Linked DNA regions of Homo sapiens. The protein of the gene in region 2 interacts with the protein of the main gene of each other region in a biochemical or structural test. Each region holds a gene or a part of one and is shown on either strand. Other genes may lie near its edges.

The links.
Region 1: the proteins of NFIA (region 2) and ETV7 form a complex in vitro, tested with the Homo sapiens proteins (one study listed by BioGRID).

Annotation. Positions count from the first base shown.
Region 1 is NC_000006.12:36,385,727-36,389,472, forward strand, and holds the start of ETV7 (transcription factor ETV7), read right to left. Parts: upstream 1,944-3,746; 5' UTR 1,816-1,943; coding exon 1,810-1,815; intron 1,205-1,809; exon of another isoform or gene 894-1,204; intron 795-893; exon of another isoform or gene 675-794; intron 1-674. UniProt on the Homo sapiens protein: Transcriptional repressor; binds to the DNA sequence 5'-CCGGAAGT-3'. Isoform A does not seem to have a repressor activity. Isoform C does not seem to have a repressor activity.
Region 2 is NC_000001.11:61,456,438-61,460,183, forward strand, and holds part of NFIA (nuclear factor 1 A-type), read left to right. Parts: 3' UTR 1-3,746.

The DNA.
Region 1 (3,746 bases), on a different chromosome or scaffold from region 2:
TCTTTAAATGTCTTAAGAATTTTTTTGGAAGGGAAAGAGTGTTTATCTCCACCAGAAGACTGCATCAACCTTAAAGGTAGGAACCATGTATATCTTCAACTCAGTACCATCAACATTTTGTACCCAGTGGACACAATAAATGACATCCTTCCAATTCAAGCTTTCCATGCATGTGCCTAACTCCAAGAGGGATCCCCTGCCAAGACTTGTATGATTGAAATCTGAAAGCCTAGGAATCCTCACTGGATCCCTGGTGAGGACAACACAGGAAACCTGAGGGGCCAGGATCAAAAGACCTTAAATCAGAAATAAACAAATAGACCAGGTGCGGTGGCTCACACCTATAATCTCAACACTTTGGGAGTCTGGGGCGGGTGGATTACTTGAGGTCAGGAGTTTGAGACCAGCCTGACCAACATAGTGAAACATTATCTCTACGAAAAATACAAAAATTAGCCGTGCGTGGTGACCGGCGCCTGTAATCCCAGCTACTCAGGAGGCTGAGGCAGGAGAATCACTTGAACCCGGGAAGCGGAAGTTGGAGTGAGCCAAGATCACGCCACTGCACTCCAGCCTGGGCAAGAGAGCAAGACTCCGTCTCAGAACAAACAAACACTATTTTCAAAAGAGAAAAAGAAAGGATAAGGATACATTTCTGAATCCTAAGGTCTCACCACGGGAAGCCTGTATCTTTACAATTCAACAATCAGCATGGCCCCCAGAGATGACGGGGTTCATCCATTCAGATGAGAAAATGAAGAAAGTGGCAGGATTTTGTAGGAATAGGAAGCTCCTTCGGGCTCATGCCCAGCCACAGGCTGCCACAGCACGGAAAGGAAAAGTGAAACCAGCTCCATCAAGTCATTTTTCACTCTAGGATTGTCAAAAGCTTTACATTCATCTCTTGGGATCCGAGGAGAGATATCTGCCGAGAGAGAATTTGGATCGGAGCCAGCAAAGCAAACTCCAGAAGCCTTGGCTGCTGCGAAAGGGGATTCAACACCTTTCCGGGTCGTTCTCACTTCATTTCCAGCCGGTCCCCCTTTGGTGCTGTTTCCCAAGTAATCAGACCTCAGGGGTTGCCTCCTGGTGGGGAAAGGGAAGCTTGCCTTGCTGGAGAAGGGGCTCAAGGCACAGGACTTGCCTCGGACTTGCCAAGGAGGCTTGCAGGAGGCTCTTTGTCTACTCCTCTGTCCTCATCCAAGTAAGAGGAGCGGGGAATTCCGAGGCTGTAACTGCCTGGGAAACGCCAGCCACGGAGCTGCTGAGGATCAGACTCCTGGGTTTCAGCATGGAGGCCAGGGAAGGGTCTGATAATGGGTATGGGTCCTGGCGAGAGGGGAGTGGAGAAAGGCCTTGGAGTGGGACGGGGCGCCAGCTCTGGGGGCAGTCTCGAGGCACCTAGAAAACCGGCGAGTGGGGAGAGGCTGCTAAAGAGGGGCTCCCTGCGAGAATGCGTTCACCAGCTGTGAGGACCTGGCTGGCGCACGAACTTCCAAAGACCTCACATCTGGTTGGTGTAGGGGCGACCAGTGGTAAGGGGGCTGCGGAAAGGGCCCGCAGGGGCTGTGCGTGATGCCTTCAGAGCTGTGTATGACACCGAGAGAGTCAGGGGCGGTGACCCGCGTCTGGAGGTGGAAGGGGAAGTGAGTGAGGGATGGATGTGAGGTTTAGGAATGTGTTGGAAAGAGAGATTCCCGCCAGGTAAAAGGTCTGATAAAATAGGTTTGGAAATCTAGGTGGTGAGGAAAGGATGCGGGAGCAGGTGGCTCTGCGTGCGCGCTGCGTGTTCAGCCGCCAGGCTCTTACCTGCATTACAGGTGGAGGTGAGGAAGCCACCGGCTTTCTGTCTTGAGCGCTCCCCTGGCTGTGGCTGCTGGGGCCCTAGGCCCGCGCCCCGCAGTCCTCCTCCGCCAAACCCCTAACCTGGCTCCGAGAACTGGAAGGTCGCGTGGGAGGAAATCTCTTTCGAGAAGCGCCAAGGCGTGTGCGCCCGGGTCCTCCGCAGGCGGGCAGGCGCGCGAGGCGCTCCGGTAATCGCTATCCTTCCGGGAAACGAAAACGAAAGAGCGGGATGCGGTTCCACTTGCGCCGCTGCGGGCTAGGAGCAGGGCAGGGCAGGGCAGGGGCCGGCCCCGTGGGAGCGCAGCACCGGGGCGCTGCCCGCTCGCTAGCCTGGGAGGCGTGGGTCCTGCACACAGCCTCCAGCCGGCGGACAGTCCCTCTGGCGACCTGGCCTTGGCTCCCACTGGGGCAGAGCCGGGATTCTGCAGGATCTGAGGATCTAAGGGGACCCCTAGTCCTGAACTCGGAACCAACTGCGTCTCTCACGGTCCCGAGCCCAGGACCAGGAAGGACCCTGTGAGTCTCCGCACATAGGATAGGAAGGGGCCTCGCATGGTGCCTCTCCCTTTAGGGGTGAGTGACCTTCCCGGCCCCGATACTGTCTCGGCCTGCCGTTTGGCCCCGCTGAGGCCCCACAGGTCCGGAACCGTCGCACCACCATCAGAGCGGCTGTGCTCTCCTGAGCAGGGCCAGACTACTCGGAGATCCCGACTGACACCTTTTCCTGGGCCTCTGGGTGCTCCGGGGTTGGTGCCTGCCCACCCATCACCCTTTCCATCTGTCTCAGCTCCCCCTGTCTCAAGAGAGGTTGTGCGCATAAAAACAAACCAGAAGACACCGAAGAAAAGGAAAGAAAAGCATTAACAACCTTCTGCTGAAAATCTGAGGGTGTAGACGCTGTTACAAAGTAGGCTTAGCACTGGTATATCATCACAAGCTCTAGGCCAGCAATAAGAAACCAGTAAGAACAAGGCCAGAAACCCAGTAGGAAAAAAAAATGAGCAAAGGATATGAATAAACAGTCCACATAAAAGGAAATGCCAAATGGCTCCTGAATATACAAAAAGATGCCCAGGGTGCAGTGGCTCATGCCTGTAATCCCAGCACTTTGGGATGCCAAGGTGGGAGGATCGCTTGAGCCCAGGAGTTGGACACCAGTCTGAACAACATGGTGAGATCCTGTCTTTACTGAAAATTTAAAAAATTAGCCGGGCATGGTGGGGCTACACCTGTAGCCCCAGCTATTCAGGAGGCTGAGGATGGAAGATCGCTTGAGCCTGAGAGTTGGAGGCTGCAGTGAGCCGTGACTGTGCCACTGCACTCCAGCCTGGGCAGCAGAGAAAGAAAAAGATGCTCAGACAAACTCACTATTTTAAATGTGCAAATTAAAGTTATTCTGAGATAGAAATTTTTACCCATAAATTTGGCAAAAATTTAAAAGTTTACTAACATAATCTGCTGGAAAAGCTGAGGTAAAGTGGTGCAACCCCACAGCGGGGTCTGGCAAATTTACAAATGCATTTTCCTTTCACCCAGCAATCTGCCTACCAGAAATTTATTCAACAAATATCCAAAGTATACATAGTTACTTATTTAATCATGGTTTATAATAGCAAAGTATGAGAAATAACTCAGGTGTCCACAAAAGGAGGCTTGATAAACTAATGCACATTCATTTCTTTTAATTTTAATTTTCTATTTTTTTTTTTTTTTTAGAGACAGGGTCTCACTCTGTCGCCCAGGCTGGAGTGCAGTGGTGCCATCAAAGCCCACCTTAACCTCCAACTCCTGGGCTCCAGTGATCTCCCACCTCAGCTCCCAAATCACTGGGATTACAGATGTGAGCCACCACACCCAGCCAAATTATGTACATTCATTTAACTGAATACAATACAACACTT
Region 2 (3,746 bases):
ATGCTAATTAATTATTTTCTGTTATCAAAGCACATGACTAAAATGAAATCATGGTATCTGTTAATTTTATAAGCTAGAAGTCACTATAATGGATTACGCCAATTCTAAAAAATTTTACACCTATCTGGCATCATAGGATTTATCAGTTATCAGACACCTCATTGTACCAGAGATTGTCCAGAAGTTTTAAAGACCTTTGCATCCCTGAACTGGGCTATGGGAAATAATAATAGTAATAATAATAATAATAATAATGATGAAACCAATACTGACACAAATGCTGGTGCCCATTCAGATCAAGGGTACTTGTTAGGGAAAAAAAAAAAAGTTTGCACCCCCAAACGTCCTGTATCTTATGAAAAAAAAAACAAAAAACAAAAACAAAAAAAAAACACAAAAAACCACAGAAACAAAAACAAAAAAAAGTGCAAGTGATTTTTCTACCAGACAGCGAAGCACCCCTTTGCTTCCCATGCGACTTCAAGAAGGTTTCCTATACTATACATATATATACGTTCTGGTTGGCAAGCCCTGCTGATCAGAGAAAGTCTCTGCATGTTCTAGTGTTAGTAACTAATTTTTATATAGTTAATGTAGGATAAAGTAGAGTGCATTAAGACACAATATTGTAATCCCTACTCTAGGCACTTGCCTTTAAACTATGTTTTTCAGCCCTTCAGAAGGGTTCTACTACTGTCCTATACAATCAAGTAACTGAAATTCTTGGGAAGACACTTTGCTCCTCATCTTTCTCCCCGAAACAATGTTGTTTTGTTTTGTTTTTTTTCCTTAATTTGCACGAAAACAAAAATTCCATATCAATGTGCCTTGCCCTGGATAGCGATTATTTGTGGAATTGTTGCACATGCTCCTCTATTGAAAGGGGTTTTTCCCTAGTCAAGCATTTGGAGACACTTTTTGTAAATGTGACTTTTATGTCAGCCATCGTCAGTTTCAACATCTAGAACTAAATAGAAAGCTAGTTGTTCCGCAGATAGGAGTAGTCTTTATTGTCCTGTACGGTCGGTGGCAGTGCTATTCTGAGATCTGTAGATGCTTAGAATATCAGTATTTTGGATGTTGCTGCATTTTACAATTTATTTGGAGTCTTCCTTTATTTTCCCCCAGATATATGAAAATATGCAATACCTGCTTATATCATGTAGAAAAGCTTAGCAATTATTAATTTTTCTTTTATTTTTTTTTATTTGACCAAAGTCGGTGCTGCACTTGACGCAGTGTGTTTTAGGTGTTTGTCTTTGTACTTTTTTGTGATTTTTGAATGCACGTGCGCAGGAAGGGCTCCTCTTAGAGAAGCAGTCAAACTGTGAAGCACTAAGCTGACCCTGCTTCAAGCAATTTTGTTTTTACAACTGTTCCTTTCACAAGCAAGCCTTAAAAAAAAAAAAGACAACTTCCTTTTTCTTCAGCTCCCACACCCCATTTTTCTTAGCAGACTGCAGTCAATCCACATTCAATAAAAAGTATATAATGCCCATTTTTATATGCACGTTTTTAAACTTCCAAGTTCTGAAAATTGTTTACTGGTTATCTCTATTTAAGGAAAAAAAAATAAAATAAAACATTTTGGATTTTCATATGTGTCTGATAAGTGGTTGAATAGTCGTTTGGCGCTGTTGTATGGTGTGATTGTCAGTGTATGGTGTCACTTCCTATAGCCAGCCAGCATACTTTGCCTTCCCCTATAGCACTTAGCTGGGCATTACTTTATTATGACATATGTGCACTAAAAAATGAAAAAAAGGAAAAAAAGAAAAAAAAAAAGAAAAAATAGCAGCTTTCAGTGCTTCACAGTGAAGGGAAAAAAGCCTAGACAAACATTTTGTCAGAACCTTGCAATAAGCCAAGGTATTACCAGTAAATTGGTTGTATATACAATAAAATTGCACCCTTTTTTAAACAAAACAAACTAAGCAATAGTTTGGGCAGTTTTAGTTGTTTTTAGTGAGCATGTTGTAGTCATGACTGCAAAGAGAGAGAATAAACTGCCCGCTCAGAAGATATGTAATTTGTATTGTTGTATAGTTTTATTGATTACACTGATTTATTCTACCCTATTTTATAATGCAGGACTTTTGTAATGTTGTTTAAATGAGGAAAAATTTCTGTCAAATTAGCCTAGTAAAATTTCTGATCGTTCATTATAAAGGCAGCGTTCATAGAATTGCTTTTCTTTCTTTTTACCCCCCCTTTGGGAACTGGATTTAAGTTTAAAACTTTCCTGTTTCCTTTTTTTTTTTTTTTTTGTAAGTATTTAAATACAATTATTTTTTTCTCTCAATGGTATAGCATATTCCTATGCTTGAGAAGTATAGGTCTACTGAAAAACCATTGTAAATGGACGTTACAGGTATGCTGTATTTTTGAAGGTATTTTGTTGTATTAAGTTTGATGAAGCTAAAATTAGGGAACTCTGAACAGATTTGCAGGAAAAAATGTTTTAAAGGCTTTAAAACATTAGGGAGGCAGTCTAGGGTGATAACGAACAGGGGTTAAGTATTAAATACACGAAGTTACATTTTTGTTCATGTTTCATTGTCCAGAAAGCAGCAGGAAACTATTCAGTTGTGATCAAGCAGGAAAAAAGAAACACCAACAGTTGCCAGTGTTTTTGCTTTTTAGCTTAAAAGCATAGTGAAGATGCTTGAGGAAGACTTTGCTACCTGGGGTGTGTAGACAGACAGACTGAGAGCTATCAGCATTTGAAGGCCCAGCCCTTGACTCTGAGACACATTTGAATTTTTTCTTTCCCATCAAATGGCATTAACAAGATTGGGCAAAGATGAGTCCCTCAAATTTCTGTGTTTTTTGTTTGTTTGTTTGTTTGTTTTTTCTTTGGGAACTGAAGTCAGAGGCACGAACACTAACTCTTAGCATTTTTCTGTAGACTTTTTCTTCTGGCCCTTGTCCCTGCCAGCAAAACGCCCCTTTTCTGATCATTCGTGCGCAGAGGGCCTCCCAGTAATGCCACGCTCTCCATGCTAGAGAGCCTTCTCTTTCCTCTGAGGTTTGAACTGATGTTCTGTGTCTTCACACCCTGGCATGACAGTTACGTGTGGTCAGCCCGCTCCCCAGGCCCGTCCCTGCCGCCGCCAGGTGTGGGCTCTAGGCAGGCCGACAAGGTTACACCTCCCAGAGCTTGTGATCTTCATTTTCTGACAGTCAAAGTGTGAAGGAACCCAGACTTCCCCGAGCCACGGTGTTCAGTCAGCCCACAGGAATATGCAAGACCCATCTCCAAAAGTTTGTCTTTGATTTTTTCCAAGCCCTTAGCCCCATAAGCTTTGAATCCTGTAGTTACAGTGGCATAAAGGACTGACAAAACCTGGATAAGGAAAAACCTTTTTTTTCTATGAATTTTTTTTGTTTTTTAGGGGAAAGGGATTCTAAGAATGTCATTTAATGTACTTTGCATCATGTCTCTAGAAATATCTTTGTCCATAGTGGTGGTGGAGTCTCTCTCTCTCTCTCTCTTTTTGTTTGCTTCTGTTTTCTTTCTTGTCTTCATTCTTTCTTTTCTTTTTTATTTCTGGTAGCAGGCCTCCATAGAACAAATCTAAAACACAACCACCATAGTAATGTAAGGAGAGCTTCAGTGGCACCTCAAAACCCACCCTTCGAGATCTGTCCAAAGACAGTCTCAGAAAGCTGCACTGCCCACCGGCTCAGCTTTCATTCAAAAAGGCTTCCAAGGCCAATTCTGTCTTGAAGTCAATGCATGTATT